2 separate regions of the Homo sapiens genome follow, and region 1 is linked to region 2. The links come from fine-mapping of genetic effects on gene expression. A gene starts in region 2. The other region holds a variant in brackets. All regions are shown on one strand. Distances are between the middles of the regions.

The links. PIP is the estimated chance that this variant, and not a neighbour inherited with it, causes the effect.
Region 1: its variant is fine-mapped to the expression of DCPH1 in whole blood (TOPMed, PIP above 0.99).

What each region holds. Positions count from the first base shown.
Region 1 is chr6:151,508,792-151,518,564 of GRCh38, reverse strand. The region is part of intron 1 of CCDC170 (coiled-coil domain containing 170); the gene reads right to left. Among named protein-coding and RNA genes, the nearest start is that of CCDC170, 20 kb to the right of the region's middle. The variant C/T (reference allele first, on the strand shown) is at 5,438.
Region 2 is chr6:151,449,230-151,459,002 of GRCh38, reverse strand. DCPH1 (damage control phosphatase 1) reads right to left here and starts at 6,537. Exons shown (of 5, transcript NM_024573.3): 1 at 6,417-6,537; 2 at 4,350-4,455; 3 at 431-675. The coding sequence starts at 6,457. RMND1 (required for meiotic nuclear division 1 homolog) reads left to right here and starts at 6,877. Exons shown (of 12, transcript NM_017909.4): 1 at 6,877-6,987. RefSeq lists silencers at 2,915-3,209, 6,180-6,299 and enhancers at 2,844-3,601, 6,460-6,909, 7,100-7,149.

The DNA of each region.
Region 1 (9,773 bases), 60 kb before region 2:
GCCTATGGAGTAGGCACCCTTTTATTCCTTTACTTTATTAATAAACTTGCTTTCACTTTACTCTGTGAACTCACCCAAATTCTTTCTTGAACAAGATCCAAGAACCCTCTCTTGGGGGTCTGGATTGGGACTCCTTCCTGGTAACAAATGTATGCTTTTTTTACTAACATCTTAGTCCTCACATTTGATTGACTTGACAGTCTCGTCCCATTCTCATCTGCTAAACCAAATCCCCTCAGCCCCTGGAGCTGCCTGATTTCTCCAAGATCCCACCCCCTGGAGATGGGCTGGCTTAGAAAGTGCACAGATTTTCCCACACTAAGAAAGATAGCTTGCAACACTCCATCTCAGCCTGGTCCACCCAGAAGCATTAACAAACTAAAAAACATGGATGTATACCATAACTACAAGTCAAAAGGAGAAAGGTTGCCTTCTTCTGGACTCTGTGGCTGTTCTGGGACATGCTTCTCCTGTACCATGGCAGGACCATAAACTGAAGGCAAGGCCCCACCTTGCTAGTGTTTCGTATAATCTTTACTGTTTGCAAAAGGCCTGGATTTTTGAGAATTCCTTTAATTTCCATCCAAAGCTTAAGGGCTATTTCTTATCCAGTGTGAAAACAAGAAAGAATGAAAAAAAAAAAAGAAGCAAATGGCCGTAAAGAAAAATTAAAGGAGGGAAAAAATAAGAGGAAGCACAGGAGTATTATATATGTGCTGTGAGTATTGTACACTTCCTAGAGGTAGACCACAGCTTGACTTGGCCCTTCCAAGTCGACAGACATGAGTCACATTGATACAGGAGTTAAGAAGAAATTATTAGTGGCCGGGCACGGTGGCTCACGCCTGTAATCCCAGCACTTTGGGAGGCCGAGGTGGGTGGATCACGAGGTCAGGAGTTCGAGACCAGCCTGACCAACATGGTGAAACCCCGTCTCTACTAAAAATACAAAAAGAAAAAAAAAATTAGCCAGGCATGGTGTTGGGCACCAGTAATCTCAGCTACTCAGGAGACTGAGGCAGGAGAATTGCTTGAACCCAGGAGGCAGAGGCTGCAGTGAGCCGAGATTGTGCCACTGCACGCAGCCTGGGTGACAGTGCAGGACTCCATCTCAAAAAAAAAAAAAAAAAGAAGAAGAAGAAATCATTAGTAAGGGTATGGGAGTCCTCAGTAAGGTTTTCTTTTAAATGAAAAGCAGCCCCAAAATAATTTTCTTTTGTTTTTTGTTTACTGAGACACAGTCTCACTCTTGTTGCCCAGGATGGAGTGCAATGGGGTGATCTTGGCTCACTGCAACCTCCACCTCCCAGATTCAAGCAATTCTCCTGCCTCAGCCTCCCGAGTAGATGGGATTATAGGCATGTGCCACCACACTTGGCTAATTTTGTATTTTTAGTAGAGACAGTTTCTCCATGTTGGTCAGGCTGGTCTCCAACTCCTGACCTCAGGTATCCATCCACCTAGGCCTCCCAAAGTGCTAGGATTATAGGCGTGAGCCACTGTGCCCGGCCCCAAAATCATTTTCTTTCCTAACAAAGAGCAGCTTGTAAAATCAAGCTGCAGGCATAGACAAGTAAGCTGGAAGCTTGCATGGGTGGAAGTTGGCAGTTGTGCCAAAAGGAAAAGGCTTCCTGGGACTAGGCATGTTCATCTTCTCTCTTTTTGCCAAAGCATGTGCACAGTAAGGAAAAGACAATATGGCACCAGCCAGGCAAAGACTCCATTTGCATAATAAGATTAGGGTGGGACCACCAGCCTTCCCCACGCACTAGGTAAACATCGCACCTGGTTGAACCAATCTCTGGGCCCTACGTAAATCAGACACTGTCTCCTCAAGCCTGCCTGTAAAATCTGGTACAGTCTAGAGCTGACCAGTTTTTCCCTTTCAGGAACTCCTCTCTCTTTCAAGGGAGAGAGCTGTTCTTCTTTCTCTTTCTTTTGCCTATCAAACCTCTGCTCCTAAACTCACTCCTCATGTGTGTCTGTGTCCTTAATCTTCTTGGTGCGAGATGACAAACCCTGGGTATTTACCCTAGACAACAACACCGCTTCAACATGATTTACTAGGACCTCATGGTAAAGCAAAGAACCTGCTCAGTTACAACACACCCATTCATGACAAGAAATCATGACAAATTTCAAAACCCACAAAACAATCTATCAACTAAAAATAACATTCTAAGCCTTCCAACTGACTGAATGGAGACCTCCTCTTGGCCAAGGGCATTCCAAAGTAAACCTGAAACTAGTTCAAGCCTTGATGGAAAATGGAGGCCCAACATACTTCATTATACCCTTCTCCCTTTGGAATTCAGACACAACTGACCAGCATTAACATTAAAACAGAGATCTTAAGACTGAGAGAACAGACTCCTGTAGCAATAAGATACCAAATTCCAACCTGACTCTAGTATAGCATTATATGACAGATAACAGCCCTGAAAGAAATCGAAGTATTTTACCTCAAAATATATTTGTCTTTTCTTTTTTTTTTTTTTCTGAGACAGAATCTTGCTCTGTCACCAGGCTGGAGTGCAGTGGCGCGATCTCAGCTCACTGCAACCTCTGCCTCCAGGGTTCAAGTGATTCTCCTGCCTCAGCCTCCCGAGTAGCTGGGACTACAGGCATGTGCCACCACACCCAGCTAATTTTTGTATTTTTAGTAGAGACAGGGTTTCACCATGTTGGCCAGGATGGTCTTGATCTCTTGACCTCGTGATCCACCCGCTTCGGACTTCCAAAGAGTTGAGATTATAGGCATGAGCCACTGCGCCACACTTTCTTTGTCATATTTTTAAGTGGTCCTGCAAAGCTGTCTCTTGTGAAGGAAATGTATATTCTGTAAAGAATCTCTCTCCTTTATTAGGTCTTTTCAGGAGAGTCTACCACCTTTTATTGGTCTGATAAGAAGACATTTACCATCTATTGTCTCTGAAGCCTGCTACCTGGAGGCATCATCTATATAACAAGAACCTGGGCTTCCCACCTGCACAGTGGCTCACGCCTACAATCCTAGCACTTTGGGAGGCCAAGGCAGGCAGATCACCTGAGGTCAGGAGTTCCAGACCAGACTGGCCAATATGGTGAGACCCTGTCTCTACTAAAAATACAAAAATTAGCCAGGTGTGGTGATGTGCACCTGTAGTCCCAGTTACTTGGGAGGCTGAGGCAGGAGAATCGCTTGAACCTGGGAGGCAGAGGTTGCAGTGAGCCAAGATCACACCATTGCACTTCAGTCTGGGTGACAGAGTGAGACTCCGTCTCAATAAATAAGTAAATAAATTGATGGAGACTTGTCTCAGATACTTTTTGATTTACAAATCTAATGGCGTAATGCCAATGCCTAAAACAGGGTCCAAACAATGTAGTCCAAGTAGACATCTCTCCCAGGCTCTTGCATTTCAAGGATAATTTTGAAGTAGAGCATAGAATGAATGAAATGCATATTCTTCAGCCAATCCTTTATAATAGCATTTGACTACATTTGTTTAGTTAATATAAGAAACACAATTTCCAAGACCTCTTGTTCAGGTATTAAGAGTGCATTCCTCATCACCTTGATCCAGTTTCTTGCAGAGACCAGGTGAGTGAGTGTGAAGGCCTCATTTATCTGACACCAACCTACCAAGCTTTCAAAAGTCACATAGCCTAAGCTGATGTAATAATGTGAAGGCATTTCAATATTAGGATGGAAATGAATGGTTCTGCCAAGGCTTCATCCAAAAAGAATGGAGACTGAAGCAAGAGGCTCCTCACTGCTCTCCCTTCCGACTCACTTTGTGCCGACCTAACCTTTGTGCTGCCACAAAGTAGCCACTCTGAAATGCAGACCTGATCCATCTTTCCCCACCTACAAAGCTGCCCACGATAGACAAGGTAAGGAATAAACTCCTTAAGGTATGTGAGTCTCTTCTCTATCAGCCAAAACCCACATTCCCAGGGTTTCTGCCTCAATGCCCAATATCTAGCCTGACCTCCAGTCACATGGAAAAAATTAAATGTGTCTCGGCATGCCACAGAGCTTTCATCGCTGTTTCACCTTCTGGGTTCTTCCTCTTTCTTCACAAGCTGCTTCTCCACTGGGCAAAAGTCTGGGCCCCATTCAAGAGTTGGAACTGGCATTTTTGTGAAGGCTTCCTAGGATCCCCAGGCAAAATTTCCCTCCCTTCCTTCCTTCCTTCCTTCCTTCCTCCCTCCCTCCCTCCCTCCCTCCCTCCCTCCCTCCCTCCTTCCTTCCTTTCTTTCATTTTCTTTCGTTTCTTTCTTTCCAGGATTTCACTCTGTCATCCAGGCTGGAGTGCAGTGGCATGATCACGGCTCACTGCAGACTTGACCTCCCAGTCTCAAGTTATCGTCTTATCTCAACCTCCCAGGTAGCTGGGACTACAAGCACGTGCCACCACGCCCAGCTAATTTTTGTAATTTTTTAGAGATGGAGTTTCACCATGTTGTCCAGGCTGGTCAAAATTTCTTTTTATCCCAGTTACCACTCCTGCCCACATGCTCATCTTGCTTTATTTATCTTGGTTAATATTTCTGTGATTGTCTAATCGATGAAAAAAATGAATGCCACCCACAGTCTTATCAGAGATAACTCTATTGTATTTTGATGCATTTCTTTTTTCTTTTTTTTTTTTTTTTTTTTGAGACAGGGTCTCATTCTGTCATCCAGACTGGAGTGCAGTGGCATGATCTTGGCTCATCACAACCTCCACCTCCCAGGCTCAAGCGATTCTCCTGCCTCAGCCTCCGGAGTAGGTGGGATTACAGGCGAATGCCACTACTGCCTAGCTAATTTTTGTATTTTTAGTAGAGACGGGGTTTTCATCATCTTGGCCAGGCTGGTCTAGAACCCCTGACCTCAAATGATTCACCCACCTCAGCCTCCCAAAGTGCTGGGATTACAGGCATGAGCCATGGTGCCTGGCTTTTTTTTTTTTTTTTTTTTTTTGAGACGGAGCCTCTCTCACTCTATCATCCAGGCTGGAGTGCAGTGGTGGGATCTCGGCTTACTGCAACCTCTGCCTCCCAGGCTGAAGCAATTATCTTGCCTCACCCTCCCCAGTAGCTGTAACTACAGGTGTGCACCACCATGCCCAGCTAATTTTTGTATTTTCAGTAAAGACAGGGTTTCACCATGTTGGCCAGGCTGTTCTTGAACTCCTGACCTCAAGTGATCTGCCCGCCTTGGCATCCCAAAGTGCTGGGATTACAGGCGTGAGCCACCATCCCTGTCTGATGCATTTCTTTATAGTGTTTTTCTAATACAAATATATCATGTGCTTTTTAAAAATATAATTGGGGTTATACTGTAACTACAACTTTACAACCTGTTTTCTACATTTAATATTAATATTTCCCCAAGTGTTCTTTTAAAATGTTAACAGCTGCACAATATTCCATCATAAAGCTGTATTTTAAGTTGACTACTCTCCCG[C/T]GATTCGACATTTCGTTCTCTTTCTAATTGATCACTATTATAAATCTGTTAGAATTCTGACTGTTTCCTTAGGATGAGGAAAGTTGTTTCTCTGGAAAAGAAACAACTGAGTCAAAGGAAATAAAAATTGTTTTGATACACATTGCATAGAAAATAGCACCAACTTACACTCCCACCAATTATGTACCATAGGTTCATGACTTTAAGGGTCACTGCTTAATCAGTTCCTTCTCAATATTTCTATATGCCCTTTAAGAGGTGTCTGTATTATAATATTTATCACACGAAGAATAATCATAGTAGTAACATTAGTCATCCTTTTTTTAAGGACTTGGTATATACAGACGCAACATAAACACTTTACTAACATTATTGCACTCAACCCTTACAACAGTTCTTAGAAAGGAGGAGGAACTCGGTTAAACACTTTACTAACATTATTGCACTCAACCCTTACAACAGTTCTTAGAAAGGAGGAGGAACTCGGGCTTACCCAAGGACCCACAGGCAACGAGTAAAGCAGAACCTGGATTCAAACCCACAAGTCTCTGATCCTAACACCCATGCTTTTACCCTGGGGTTTGTAAATGTTTTTGTCTGCAAGCTCTTGGTATGAGTTTATGAAACAAATTTAAATATGTGTTTATTTTAAAATGATATACTACTGGGTCCGGGTGCAGTGGCTTATGCCTGTAATCCCAGCAGTTTGGAAGGCCAAGGCCCGTGGATCACTAGAGGTCAGGAGTTCGAGACCAGGCTGGCCAACATGGTGAAACCTCCTCTCTACTAAAAATACAAAAATTAGCCAGGTGTGGTGGTACACATCTATAGTCCCAGATACTCGGGAGGCTGAGGCAGGAGAATGGCTTGAACCCAGGAGACAGAGGCTGCAGTGGGCCTAGATTATGCCACTGCACTCCAGCCTGGGCAACAGAGCGAGACTCCATCTCAAAAAAAAAAAAAAACAAAAAAAAACGGTATACTGCTGGGTGCAGTGGCTTACCCCTGTAATCCCAGCACATTGGGAGGTTGAGATAAGAGGATTGCTTATGCTCAGGAGTCTGAGACTAGCCTGGGCAACATGGTGAGACCCCTGTCTCTACAAAAATTAAAAAATTAGCCAGGCATGGTAGTGTCCCTATGGTCCCAGCTACTCAGGAGGCTGAGGTGGGAGATGGCTCAAGCCCAGGAAATCGAGGCTGCAAAGAGCTCTGATCGTGCCACCGCAGTCCAGTCTGGGTGGCAGAGACTGAGACCCTGTCTCAAAAATAAAAAAGATATACATATACTACTGTACATATTATGCACGGTACCAAACATATACAAAAATGTAAATTAAGATTAAGATAAACAAAAATTCAAATCTTATCTTCTTGGACCTCTCAAAAACATCTTGTGTTTTATGTCTACCTACTAGAATGTAAGCTCCGTGAGAGCAGGCCCTCTGTTTTCCAGTACTGTGTCTGCAACAGTGCCTGGCAGATAGTATGCACTCATGAAATATATGTTGGGCATTAATAAATGAACGAGTCAGCTACAAGGTTGTGTGTTTGAAGGCAGAAGCTAGAAATCAATTATATTTTTATCCTTAGCACCAAGCACATTTCCTAGCACATAATGAACACCCCATAAATATCTGGTGAATGAATATACATTTAATGTTTGTTGAATAAATTAATGGATGGATAAATGAATGAGCACATGGATGGGAAGATAAATAGACAAACAGAAAGGCTTCTTCCCTCTGGTCACTTTACAGGGTTAGCACGTCAAAGATAAAAATACCTGGCTGAACTTAATTATAACACTTTACTAGTGTTATACTCTAGGGGGCAAACAATAGCCCCCTAGAACAAGTATAGATGGAATTTCACTACGTCTTGTAAAACCAGGAAATAATAAACCCCCTATTTTAAAAATTAGCCCTCGCTAGACAAAAACTTAGAAGCAAAGTTAGTGAGTTTTAGAAGAACTGGAAAGCGTAGTAGACAGTCGACCAAGATACACTGGAGAGGCAAAGCCATGAATTGTTCATCCACATCTTATTAGGTAAGGACAAAACTATAAAACATCTATAAAATACTTACCTTGAGGCTGGGTGCAGTGGCTCACACCTGAAATCCCAGCACTTTGGGAGGCCGAAGCAGGTGGATCACCTGAGGTCTGGAGTTCGAGACCAGCCTGGCCAACATAGTGAAACCCCATCTCTACTAAAAATACAAAAATTAACCAGGCATGGTGGCAGGCACCTGTAATCCCAGCTACTCAGGAGGCTGAGGCAGGAGAATTGCTTAAACCCAGGAGGTGGAGGTTGCAGTGAGCTGAGATTGTGCCACTGCACTCCAGCCTGGGTGACAAAGCGAGACTCTATAAAAAAAAAAGAAGAAGAAAAAAAACTTACTTATAAAATTATAAACCTTAATATTTGTTAGGGTGAAAGTCCCTTTCTATCTAATTTACGATTTTTCTGTATCTTGTTATGAGTGTCCTGACTAATAAGTTTGCAATTATTTCCTTAACTCATTCTATCTTTAAAAGCTCCTCATCACCTCCTTTGCAATATCGAATCTTAATCTCAAGGGTTTTTTTTGCATGGCAGACGTACATTATGGGAAATTATATTAACACACCCTCTCTGACTTCAGTATCTTTATTCTGTAACCTCACTGATATATGACATTTAAATTCACTTGTTAATCAGAAAACATTAAAATGCTTTGTTTTGCCTTTTTCTTCAGTTTTTACTGTAATAAATAACTCATTTCTAGAATTAGCATAAGTGTGAAATTTTTCTCGGAAGCTCTTTTTCTACCACAGAGATAGAAGAATGGCTTCTGGTTCATCACTGTAGCCCCAGTGACTGAGTATCAGTAAATATTTGAGGAATGAATGAACAAAATGACACAGTAAGAATTCAAACCAAGACTTTCTGACGCCAAAGCCCATGCTCTTACTCAGAATGTTTTTTTGTTGTTGTTGTTTGTTTATTTGTTTTATGGGCTTGTTTGTTTTTGAGACGGAGTCTCTTTCTGTTGCCTAGGCTGTGGTGCAATCTTTTCTCACCGCAACCTCCACCTCCCAGGTTCAAGCGATTCTCATACCTCAGCCTCCTGAGTAGCTGGGATTACAGGCGCGCACCACCATGCCTGGCTAATTTTTGTATTTTTAGTGGAGACGGAGTTTCACTATGTTGGCCAGGCTGGTCTGGAACTCCTGACCTTGTGATCCAGCTGTCTTGGCCTCCCAAAGTGCTGGGATTACAGGCGTGAGCCACCACGCCTGGCCTCTTACTCACAATGTTATTGTCCCATATATGCCTGGCTAAAAGTTGAAATGATCACCTTTCCCTAAATTGAATGATTTTCTGATGCTTGATATTGCTGTCTCCAAGACTATTGTAACAATCACTTGCATTTCCATAAGTAATGTTAAGCTCAAATAATTGATTTAATTTTAATTAATTCATAAATCTCTTTCTAACCACTTTTTGGAAAATGGATTCTTCCACGTTCATAACTGTACACATTCATAAATGTACAGATTGGATCTTGTTGATTTGGGAGCTTATAATTTAGTTTAATATAAAGTTCTATGAAGCTTAAAAATATCTGTTCAAGTTAGTAAGATAATTTCTTAGGCTGGACTCAAAAAATTAATTAACTTCAGGTCCTATTTTAAGCAACTAGCAGTTTTTTAGCATTTGTACAGGATCTACCTCCATGGGAGGTATTGGGTATAGCTGTCAAGAATAATGAATGCAAATTTGGGAACAATGTCACATATGGAATAGCCACTGAGAAAGGAATGGTGGAATGAGAAGTCCCTGTTGACAACGAGATGAGACACTTTATTCATCATTATCATTCATAGATAGATAGATAGATAGATAGATAGATAGATAGATACATAGATAGATAGATGAGACAGAGAGAGCGAAAGGGGGGAGAGAGAGAGAGAGAAAGAGATCTTTCCACATGTTAAAGATTTTAGAACTCTTCCCAAATGGGATTTTTTTCACTTCACTTATTATTAGACACTTGATAAATTTTAGTTTAAAATGAAAATTTTTCTAAGATGTAATATTTATTTTTGTATTTTTTTTTTTTTTTTTTGAGAAGGAGTTTCGCTCTTGTTGCCCAGGCTGGAGTGCAATGGCATGATCTCGCCCCACCACAACCTCCGCCTCCTGGGTTCAAGTGATTCTCTTGCCTCAGCCCTCCAAGTAGCTGGGATTACAGGCGTTCGCCACCACGCCCGGCTAATTTTGTATTTTCAGTAGAGACGGGATTGCTCCATGTTGGTCAGGCTGGTCTCAAACTCCTGACCTCAGGTGATC
Region 2 (9,773 bases):
ACCATGCCTCGCTAATTTTTTTATTTTTAGTAGAGACGGGTTTCGTTATGCTGGCCAGGCTGGTCTCGAACTCCTGACCTCAAGCAATCTGCCCACCTCAGCCTCCCAAAGTGCTGGGATTACAAGCATGAACCTCAGGGCCTGGCCAATTCGTACTTTAGATATTTACTCTTATGTCTATTCTAGGCAAGTAGATTATAATTGCCAAGAATCTGTTAAATTGGTAACAGCTATAGAAATGTCCATCAGTAACATTTGTAGAAATGTCCATCAGTAACATTTGTAGAAATGTCCAACAATGCTATTAAGATTTGCTAAACTCAACCAAATTCAAGCTTCCACTGGTGCTTATTTTTAAACTTATCCTTTTACAATTTCAGAAAAAGTATAAATTATCTAAACATTTGATAGTTGATGATTACACACGTACCTCTGGATAATTGCTTCATGAATTCTTCGATACATGTAACATTCTACCAACAACCACGGTGAGTAGAACCATCTTGATTTTCCATCACTTTCATTTAAAAGACTCTGTTGATATTCTAGGTACTGATTCCATATATCAGTATCAACAAATTTCTCAACCAAGGGGATAAATGGTTTATCTGTTTGCAATTCATTCCGTAATTTAGAAAGGAGAGAGATAGCTTTCTTTTCAGCTTCCACGCCTTCCTGCAAAAATACAAGAAAAATAAATTGTGTGTGTGTGTGTGTCTGTGCAATTCCTCTAGGGTAACATATTTTTACAGACTTAAGAAGAAAAGAAAAATGTTCAAAACTACATTTTATTTCTTTAAACATTACATTTAGAACTCTTAAACTGAAAATCAAAAAACACACACAGATCTCATATGAACATAATCATGCCTTATCTACCTAAGTTCTGGCCTTTCTGTATCTTCGGTGGGATGACCATTACCACAGAGGGAAAGGAACCCCTGCCAGATTTTCCATGTCTTTCATGCTTCCATACATATTCTTCTTTCACCATTGACACCACTAGAAAAGAAACTGTGGGCTTTCTGAGGTTTCTTTTGGTAGCTCAAATTTTTTTTAACTTGTTTTCCACCAAGTTCTAGCTAGGTGAGAGATGACATATGCTGACAAACAAGGCACTACAATATTATCTCACATAACAGGCCAATTGGAGTGGGGACAAATGTAATGGGATCAGAATGAAGTGAAAATGACTTCACACCTTGGTTTTACATTAGCAAGATTCCTGCTCCATTAAAAAAAAAGAAAATGTAAGCCTAATAAGACACGTATATAATAAAATGTAGAGAATAAACATCAAGCCTGAGTATTTTTATAAGATCATTTTTATCATGTTGATATTTAGTCCCTACTTTCAGATCTGTAATTTTCTCAATATAAACATCTCTCCAATCTTTCTTTTGTTCCAAGTACAATTTATTTTGCTGCTAGAAAAAAAGATTGAAGCTTTCGAGATTCTGCAGGTTCAGAAATAGAAGAAAAGAAGTTGTAGCTGACTGTTTTGAGAGGAACTCCCCCTCCTCCAAATCTCTTCCCTAAAGTCTTAAACTTCAACTCTTTAACTATAAATTCCAACAACTGAGGTTTTACAGGGTGTCAGGCACCCTTTTACAGAAGCATATACCTAAAAAGGCTAATGGATTAATAGTGATGTCACTGCCACTTTGTTCACTTACTTGAATTGAATTCAAACATTTACTGAACCCTGTATGTGCCTGACACTAACCTCAGGGCCAGAGAAAGATGAATAAAGCCTGGTCCTGTCTCCAAGAGACACACATCTGCCAAACCAGGTAGTCTAAGGGCACGGACGTTTGACCGCTGAGGTGGGGGAAGATAGAAAACTGTGTGGCATGGCTCCTTCGGAGATAAGCCTGGCCCTGCTATAGGTGGGGGCTTAGGAAGCTAGAACACATGAGGCCCAAGGAGAGTGGCCATAGGTATAACAGAGGCATGAAAAAGGGACAGAAAGGCTACCAAAAGCAGACTTTATCTGTGTCAATTTACATCTTGTTCTGTGCTCAGTAGAGTGTGAAATGGGGGAGGGCTGGAGAGACAATAAACTCTGCCTTCAGTCACCTGGTGATTACGGGCATACAGGCCAAGTAGCAATATACTAGGACTTCATTAATTACTACATTTTAGATCACTCTGGCCGAAAAAACTGAAATTACAAAAGCATTATGGGGCCAGGCACAGTGGCTCACGCCTGTAATGCCAGCACTTTAGGATGCTGAACTGGGAGAATTGCTGGAATCTAGGAGTTTGAGGCTGCAGTGAGCTATGACTGCACCACTGCACTCTGCCTAGTAGACAGAACAAGACCCTGTCTCAAAAAACAACAACAAGAAAAACAAAAGTATTATGGTAATTTGCTTGCGTATATGACCAAATACTAAAGTGAACTATCCAAATTTGGCTAAATTATACTTGTGTGATAAAGATATGTCAGTTACCAAAATTATGTTTATGTGATAAACATTAAAACCATTCAGCAATATAATTGTCAGTGTCTAAATTAAGCCGGATTTTAGCAACAAGGAACAACAGGTAATCCCTGTGTTATGCCAGGATTAGTTTTAAACAAGACAATATAAAAGAAGTTGAAAGAAGTAGAACATTACACTCAAACTGCATGTGTGTTATCTTGCTCCATTTCAATTTGGCCAAGGAGAAAAGATCACCAACCATTTCTCTAAATTTTTGTTTTCAACTCTCAAAAAAAATGTACTGGTATATGTATGCTCTTTTACAGTCTATTGTGTAATAGAAAGATTACTGAACCTACAAGTTTAAAGACCTATGTCTAACATAACATGTGGGGAAAAGCAAGAGAGATCAGATTGTTACTGTGTCTGTGTAGAAAGAAGTAGACATAGGAGACTCCATTTTGTTCTGTACTAAGAAAAATTCTTCTGCCTTGAGATTCTGTTAATCTATAACCTTACCCCCAACCCCGTGCTCTCTGAAACATGTGCTGTGTCAACTCGGAGTTAAATGGATTAAGGGCGGTGCAAGATGTGCTTTGTTAAACAGATGCTTGAAGGCAGCATACTCCTTGAGAGTCATCACCACTCCCTAATCTCAAGTACCCAGGGGCACAAAAACTGCGGAAGGCCGGAAGGCCGCAGGGACCTCTGCCTAGGAAAGCCAGGTATTGTCCAAGGTTTCTCCCCATGTGATAGTCTGAAATATGGCCTCGTGGGAAGGGAAAGACCTGACCGTCCCCCAGCCCGACACCCGTAAAGGGTCTGTGCTGAGGAGGATTAGTGTAAGAGGAAGGCATGCCTCTTGCAGTTGAGACAAGAGGAAGGCATCTGTCTCCTGCCCGTCCCTGGGCAATGGAATGTCTCGGTATAAAACCCAATTGTATGTTCCATCTACTGAGATAGGGAAAAACCGCCTTAGGGCTGGAGGTGGGACATGCGGGCAGCAATACTGCTTTGTAAAGCATTGAGATGTTTATGTGTATGCATATCTAAAAGCACAGCACTTAATCCTTTACATTGTCTATGATGCAAAGACCTTTGTTCACGTGTTTGTCTGCTGACCCTCTCCCCACAATTGTCTTGTGACCCTGACACATCCCTCTCTCGGAGAAACACCCACGAATGATCAATAAATACTAAGGGAACTCAGAGGCTGGCGGGATCCTCCATATGCTGAACGCTGGTTCCCCAGGTCCCCTTATTTCTTTCTCTATACTTTGTCTCTGTGTCTTTTTCTTTTCCAAGTCTCTCGTTCCACCTTACGAGAAACACCCACAGGTGTGGAGGGGCAACCCACCCCTTCAATAACATAGTTATTTGGATTTTTCCTCATCCATTAATTGAATGGACAAAGTGATTTCTAAAGTCCTATTCTGCACTGAATGCTAATGAGTCCCAACTTGAATCAGTACAATGTGTCAATCAATTATAATTCATATCACTGAGCTTTGCATAGCAGCTTGAACTTCCAGGACTCAAGATCTCAAATTAGTAATATAAATACTGCAACTCAAATTAAACTTGAAATTTAAAAAGCTCTTCTAAGCAACTCAATTGCTTAGTCACTTGACTAAGTCAATTGCAAGTCTGTTGCCCAGTCACCAATTACAACATTGCATATATTAGAAAATACATTCTGAAGTCTAAATAACTGACAGAATTAATTATTGGAACACAATCATTTTCTAAATTGAAGATTGGCTGTTCTATCTTCATTTCAATGTATTACCTTAAAAACAAATAAATACTTGGCCCATCTATTGATTTTTACATTTAAAGGAAAATTGATACCTTCAAGAACTATTTATTATGTTTCTGTTGAGAAATTAACAAAAAATTAAAAGTTAAAACAATTCTTACCTCTCCGTGTTTCTCAAAAAATTCACTTTTATGTCGATGCAATGTATCAATAACCTTAGTTAAGATCTGTGGTATTCTGTCTTTAATTGTAAGATATGCAAATGATCTAGAAAAGAGTCACATGCAATATATAACTTAGCAGCATCAATACTAGAAGACTGGCTATCTTTTAGTTTCTGGAACACTTCATGTATATTAAACTCCTCATACAACTATTAAAAGATAGACAAGTATTGTATGATTACTATATTAAGACATAAGAAAACCTGGAAAATTCGCTGGTATGTCATGGAAGCCAAACTGTCTTGGTGCCTCTAATCCCAGATTCTCCCATGGAGTCTGTTTAATCATTCTTATCTTTCCTATTCTATTGCTTTTATTTTCCTAAATCAGAAACTCGCTTAGCAAAGTGATAGGATAGGGAATGGATTAGCTTAGAAATCAAACAGGCTCTTGTCCCAGGTCTACTATCTGCTAAGTCACCTGCTTAGAAAGATGAATGAAGCAATGCATCTAAAACCACCTAAAGGGTCTAATGTGCTTGAACAACATAAAGAATTAAAGGTACTTTTAAGCCTGTTTCTCTCCATTCTGTCTATTTTCTAAGTCAATTTTAATTATTTTCAAAAATTTTCCCCTTCTCTGCCTTCTCTATCTGCACAATGGACTCCTTCCATCCTATTCTGCCCCTAAGCAAATGAAGGCGTGCTACTGTCTCTTCCCACTCAAAAAATCAGAGATTTTATAGAAGTGTTCAAGAATGAAGCAAGCTGGAGATGAAGAAAAACTTATACCTGCATTAAAAAATTAAAGATATTCTTGATTTTATTCATACAAAACCCAAGATTTACAGATTATCATTTTATATCATTCTAAGGAAATACATGATACAGGTAGAAAAAAAGCTTTATTTGGTGGAGAAATTCTGTGCAGTTTTAAATATAGAGCACAGAGCTTAGCTGACTAGTGTTTTTATCTCCAGATCACAGGAGACAATTGTTAAATTACTAGATTGTAACTTGGGTATTTCTTCAAAAGGTTTCCTCAAATGATAGCTATAGAACTTTAAGAAAAAAACTGCACACACTTTCCGACTCTGTGGTGCTTTCAGTACCACCCAAAACAGTGATTAGGTTTTAATGCGCATAATAACTACGTTGATCAGAATTTAATTTTTAAAAATCATTAATAAAAGAAATCACTAATACCTCAGAGGGTGAGCAGGAACATTAAATCAACTGTCACTTGAATTTTCCCAGGCAGTAGGTATAGTAAGTCCTTTTTTGAGATTTTACTTTAATTGGAAAGTATTACTGTTTTCCTAACTACTACATTTCCTGCACCTCTGGAACAAAGTCTCTGGCCAGGACTGGAGTGAGGCCAGAAGCCCTAGGGCGCAAAATTGAAGGAGATACTCTCTATACTTGCATGACCTGAAACAGTGACTGCCTCAATTTGGGGCCATTGGCGCCACTTTGTTGGCCTCAACCTACTTTCTGCCCAGGTTTATTTTCTTCAAAGTGTTCTCGTCTTTTGCAATATTTTGAAGTAAGGACAAATTTCAAATATAAATTTGGCCATTCGATTTATGCAAATGGATGTTATTTGCACGGTCACCCACAACTTTACCCAAGAATCAGTAGCGTGACGACTATAAAGCAAAAAACTAGACAGTTCTTACTGTGAGATTACGATTTGATCAACAACAGGGAGAAACCCGTTTCTTAATAGCGCTGAGATCCCCAACTCTTACGCAGAATTTTAACGCCCCCAAAGCGCGTCTATTAAAGTGAATAAATAAAAAGTGACCGCCAGGAACAGACCGCGAAGCTGACCCCTGTCCTGATCCTTACGAGCAGCCGCCGCGGGCAGGCTCCCTCCCCGGGGCCGCCTCCCTTCGCCTCCGAGCCAGTCCGCGAAACCCGCAAAGGCGCCCCGGAAAGCCGCGCCCGGCGGCGGGACTCGAACGCAGCCCACCGGGGAGCGGGCGCCCTCCGCTTAGTCCCCACAGGCTCCCGGCGAGGCCCGGCTTTCCGCAAAAGTGGGGAGGAGAAAAGCTAGACTAACCCCACGTCCTGTCCTGAGAGAGACGCCGGGACGACAGCCATCACTTTCCGCGATCCCGGCCGCAAAGCTCGGCTGTTCAATCGCCGCAGAAACAGAGGCGGTACCGCCGCGAAGGAGGAGCTGAGAATGGGGGTGGTGTGGCTTTAAAAAAAAAGTGCTTTTGAATAAAGAAACTTTATTTGGTGCCCGATCAAACGGCAAACAGTGGCTCGCCAGAAGACCCAATCTTCCGGGGACGAAGGCGGGGCCAGCGGAGGGCGACTAGAGGAGCGGATATGGAAGCGAGCGAAAGCCGGAAGCAGGCAAGGGACCGGGAGGTCCCAGGGCCTAGGGAGCGGAAGAGGTCGCGGCGACGCGGCTCACGTGGTCAGACAGTCACGTGGCCCGAGTTTCTCCCGCTAAGTGGGACCAGAGTTCAGTGCGGCTGCGCAGTAGCGGGGGTGGGCGGGAGCGCCCTTCCAGGAGATGGGTTGGCTGCAGTAGTGAGAGGCTGGGGGTGCGGCTCTTTCCCTGCAGTCCTGCCGAGGAAGCGTGCGTCCCTGGCGCTTCCTTCTTCTCTTCCGGCGGAGAGGTTAGTGTATTGCCTTTTCTTTAGCAGCTCGAGTGGTCCGGCTTGGAGGTCTGCGCCCTGGCTCCTGGCCGCCCGGAACGTGTACAGTTACGGGTTACGCCAGTGCGGCTGTGACCCTTTGCCTCTTACCGTGATCTTTGGTCAGCTTAGCTGGGAGTAAAAAGCACTCAATTAATGAACCCTTTTTTTGAGCCAGTGCACCGCGGTAACTGTAGAAATCGATAAAATAATTTTGAGTTTGAGGAATTGAACGGCATACTCCCAAAGATGAGCGCCACTTAGCTCTCGAATCGTAGCCTAGCTGTAATCGATTTTCTTAATTGGTGTAATTGTTCTCTAAAAGTTGAAATGTGCCCGGGAACTGAGTAACTGCCTTGTATTTCATTTTAAAAATTCGATCGAATGCCTACTATGTGCTGGGCGCTATTGTCAGGAGATATAATAGGAAAAAACACAAATCCGTATCCTCAGGGAGCTTCCATTCTGGAAGGAAGACACAAAAATCTGCCCTTTCCTCTTATTTTTTTCCTTTAGCTTTGTGTCTCACGTATTTTACTGATTTACCTCGTTTTGTCTGTCACTCCCAATGCAAGGTTCAAAAGATTCAAAAGATAGGATTTTTGTCTATTTTATTTTCAGCTGTATTGTCAGCAACTAGGACAATACCTGGCACATGATAAGAACTGAGTTCGTTTGCAGTATGAATTAATAAACTAAAAATTAAAGGTGTGCAAGTGATGTTAAACAATGGAGAAATGCAAAGTGGAGGAAGATAAGAGAATGGATGCTGGTTGTGTTTTTTTTTTTTTTTTTTTTTATTGATCATTCTTGGGTGTTTCTCGCAGAGGGGGATTTGGCAGGGTCATAGGACAATAGTGGAGGGAAGGTCAGCAGATAAACAAGTGCACAAAGGTCTCTGGTTTTCCTAGGCAGAGGACCCTGCGGCCTTCCGCAGTGTTTGTGTCCCTGGGTACTTGAGATTAGGGAGTGGTGATGACTCTTAACCAGCACGCTGCCTTCAAGCATCTGTTTAACAAAGCACATCTTGCACCGCCCTTAATCCATTCAACTCTGAGTGGACACAGCACATGTTTCAGAGAGCACAGGGTTGGGGGTAAGGTCACCGATTAGCAGGATCCCAAGGCAGAAGAATTTTTCTTAGTATGGAACAAAATGAAAAGTCTCCCATGTCTACTTCTTTCTACACAGACACGGCAACCATCCGATTTCTCAATCTTTTCCCCCCCTTTCCCCCCTTTCTATTACACAAAACCGCCATTGTCATCCCGTCCCGTTCTCAATGAGCTGTTGAGTACACCTCCCAGACGGGGTGGTGGCCGGGCAGAGGGGCTCCTCACATCCCAGTAGGGGCGGCCGGGCAGAGGCGCCCCTCACCTCCCGGACGGGGCGGCTGGCCGGGCGGGGGGCTGACCCCCCCACCTCCCTCCCGGACGGGGCGGCTGGCCGGGCGGGGGGCTGACCCCCCACCTCCCTCCCGGACGGGGCGGCTGGCCGGGCGGGGGGCTGACACCCCACCTTCCTCCCGGACGGGGGCTGGCCCCCCCACCTCCCTCCCAGACGGGGTGGCTGGCCGGGCGGGGGGCTGACCCCCACCTCCCTCCCGGATGGGGTGGCTGGCCTGGCGGGGGCTGACCCCCACCTCCCTCCCGGATGGGGTGGCTGCCGGGCGGAGGGTCTCCTCACTTCTCAGATGGGGCGGCCGGGCAGAGGCGCTCCTCACATCCCAGACGGGGCGGCGGGGCAGAGGTGCTCCCCACATCTCAGACGATGGGCGGCCGGGCAGAGACTCCCCTCACTTCCTAGATGGGATGGCGGCCGGGAAGAGGTGCTCCTCACTTCCTAGATGGGATGGCGGCCGGGCAGAGACGCTCCTCACTTTCCAGACTGGGCAGCCAGGCAGAGGGGCTCCTCACGTCCCAGACGATGGGGGGCCAGGCAGAGGCTGCAATCTCGGCACTTTGGGAGGCCAAGGCAGGCGGCTGGGAGGTGGAGGTTGTAGCGAGCCTCGATCACGCCACTGCACTCCAGCCTGTGCACCATTGAGCACTGAGTGAACCAGACTCCGTCTGCAAACCCGGCACCTCGGGAGGCCGAGGCTGGCAGATCACTCGCGGTTAGGAGCTGCAGACCAGCCCGGCCAACACAGCGAAACCCCGTCTCCACCAAAAAAGTACGAAAACCAGTCAGGCGTGGCGGCATGCGCCTGTAATCGCAGGCACTCGGCAGGCTGAGGCAGGAGAATCAGGCAGGGAGGTTGCAGTGAGCCGAGATGGCAGCAGTACAGTCCAGCTTCGGCTCGGCATCAGAGGGAGACCGTGGGGAGAGGGGGACCGTGGGGAGAGGGAGAGGAGGGAGAGGGAGAGGGCTGGTTGTGTGTTTTTAATGTAGTGGTTGGGGAAGGCTTCACTGGGTAGAAGACATTTTAGCAAACATCTGAAGGAGGTGAGGGTGTGAGCCTTTCAGATCCCTGGGAGAAGAGCGTAAGGAACAGCAAGTGCACAGATCCAGAGACCAGAATGAGGAGCAAAATAAGCAAAGGAGAGTGCTGTCAAAGTGGTGATAAAGGACAGATAATGTAGTGCCATGCAGGCCATTCTGAGGGGTTTAGCTTTTTTTTTTTTTTTTCGTTACAGAATCTCACTCTGTCGCCCAGACTTTAGTGCAGTGGCGCGATCTCGGCTCACTGCAACCTCCACCTCCCGGGTTCAGGCGATTCTCCTGCCTTGGCCTCCCGAGTAACTGGGATTACAGGCACCCGCCGCCAC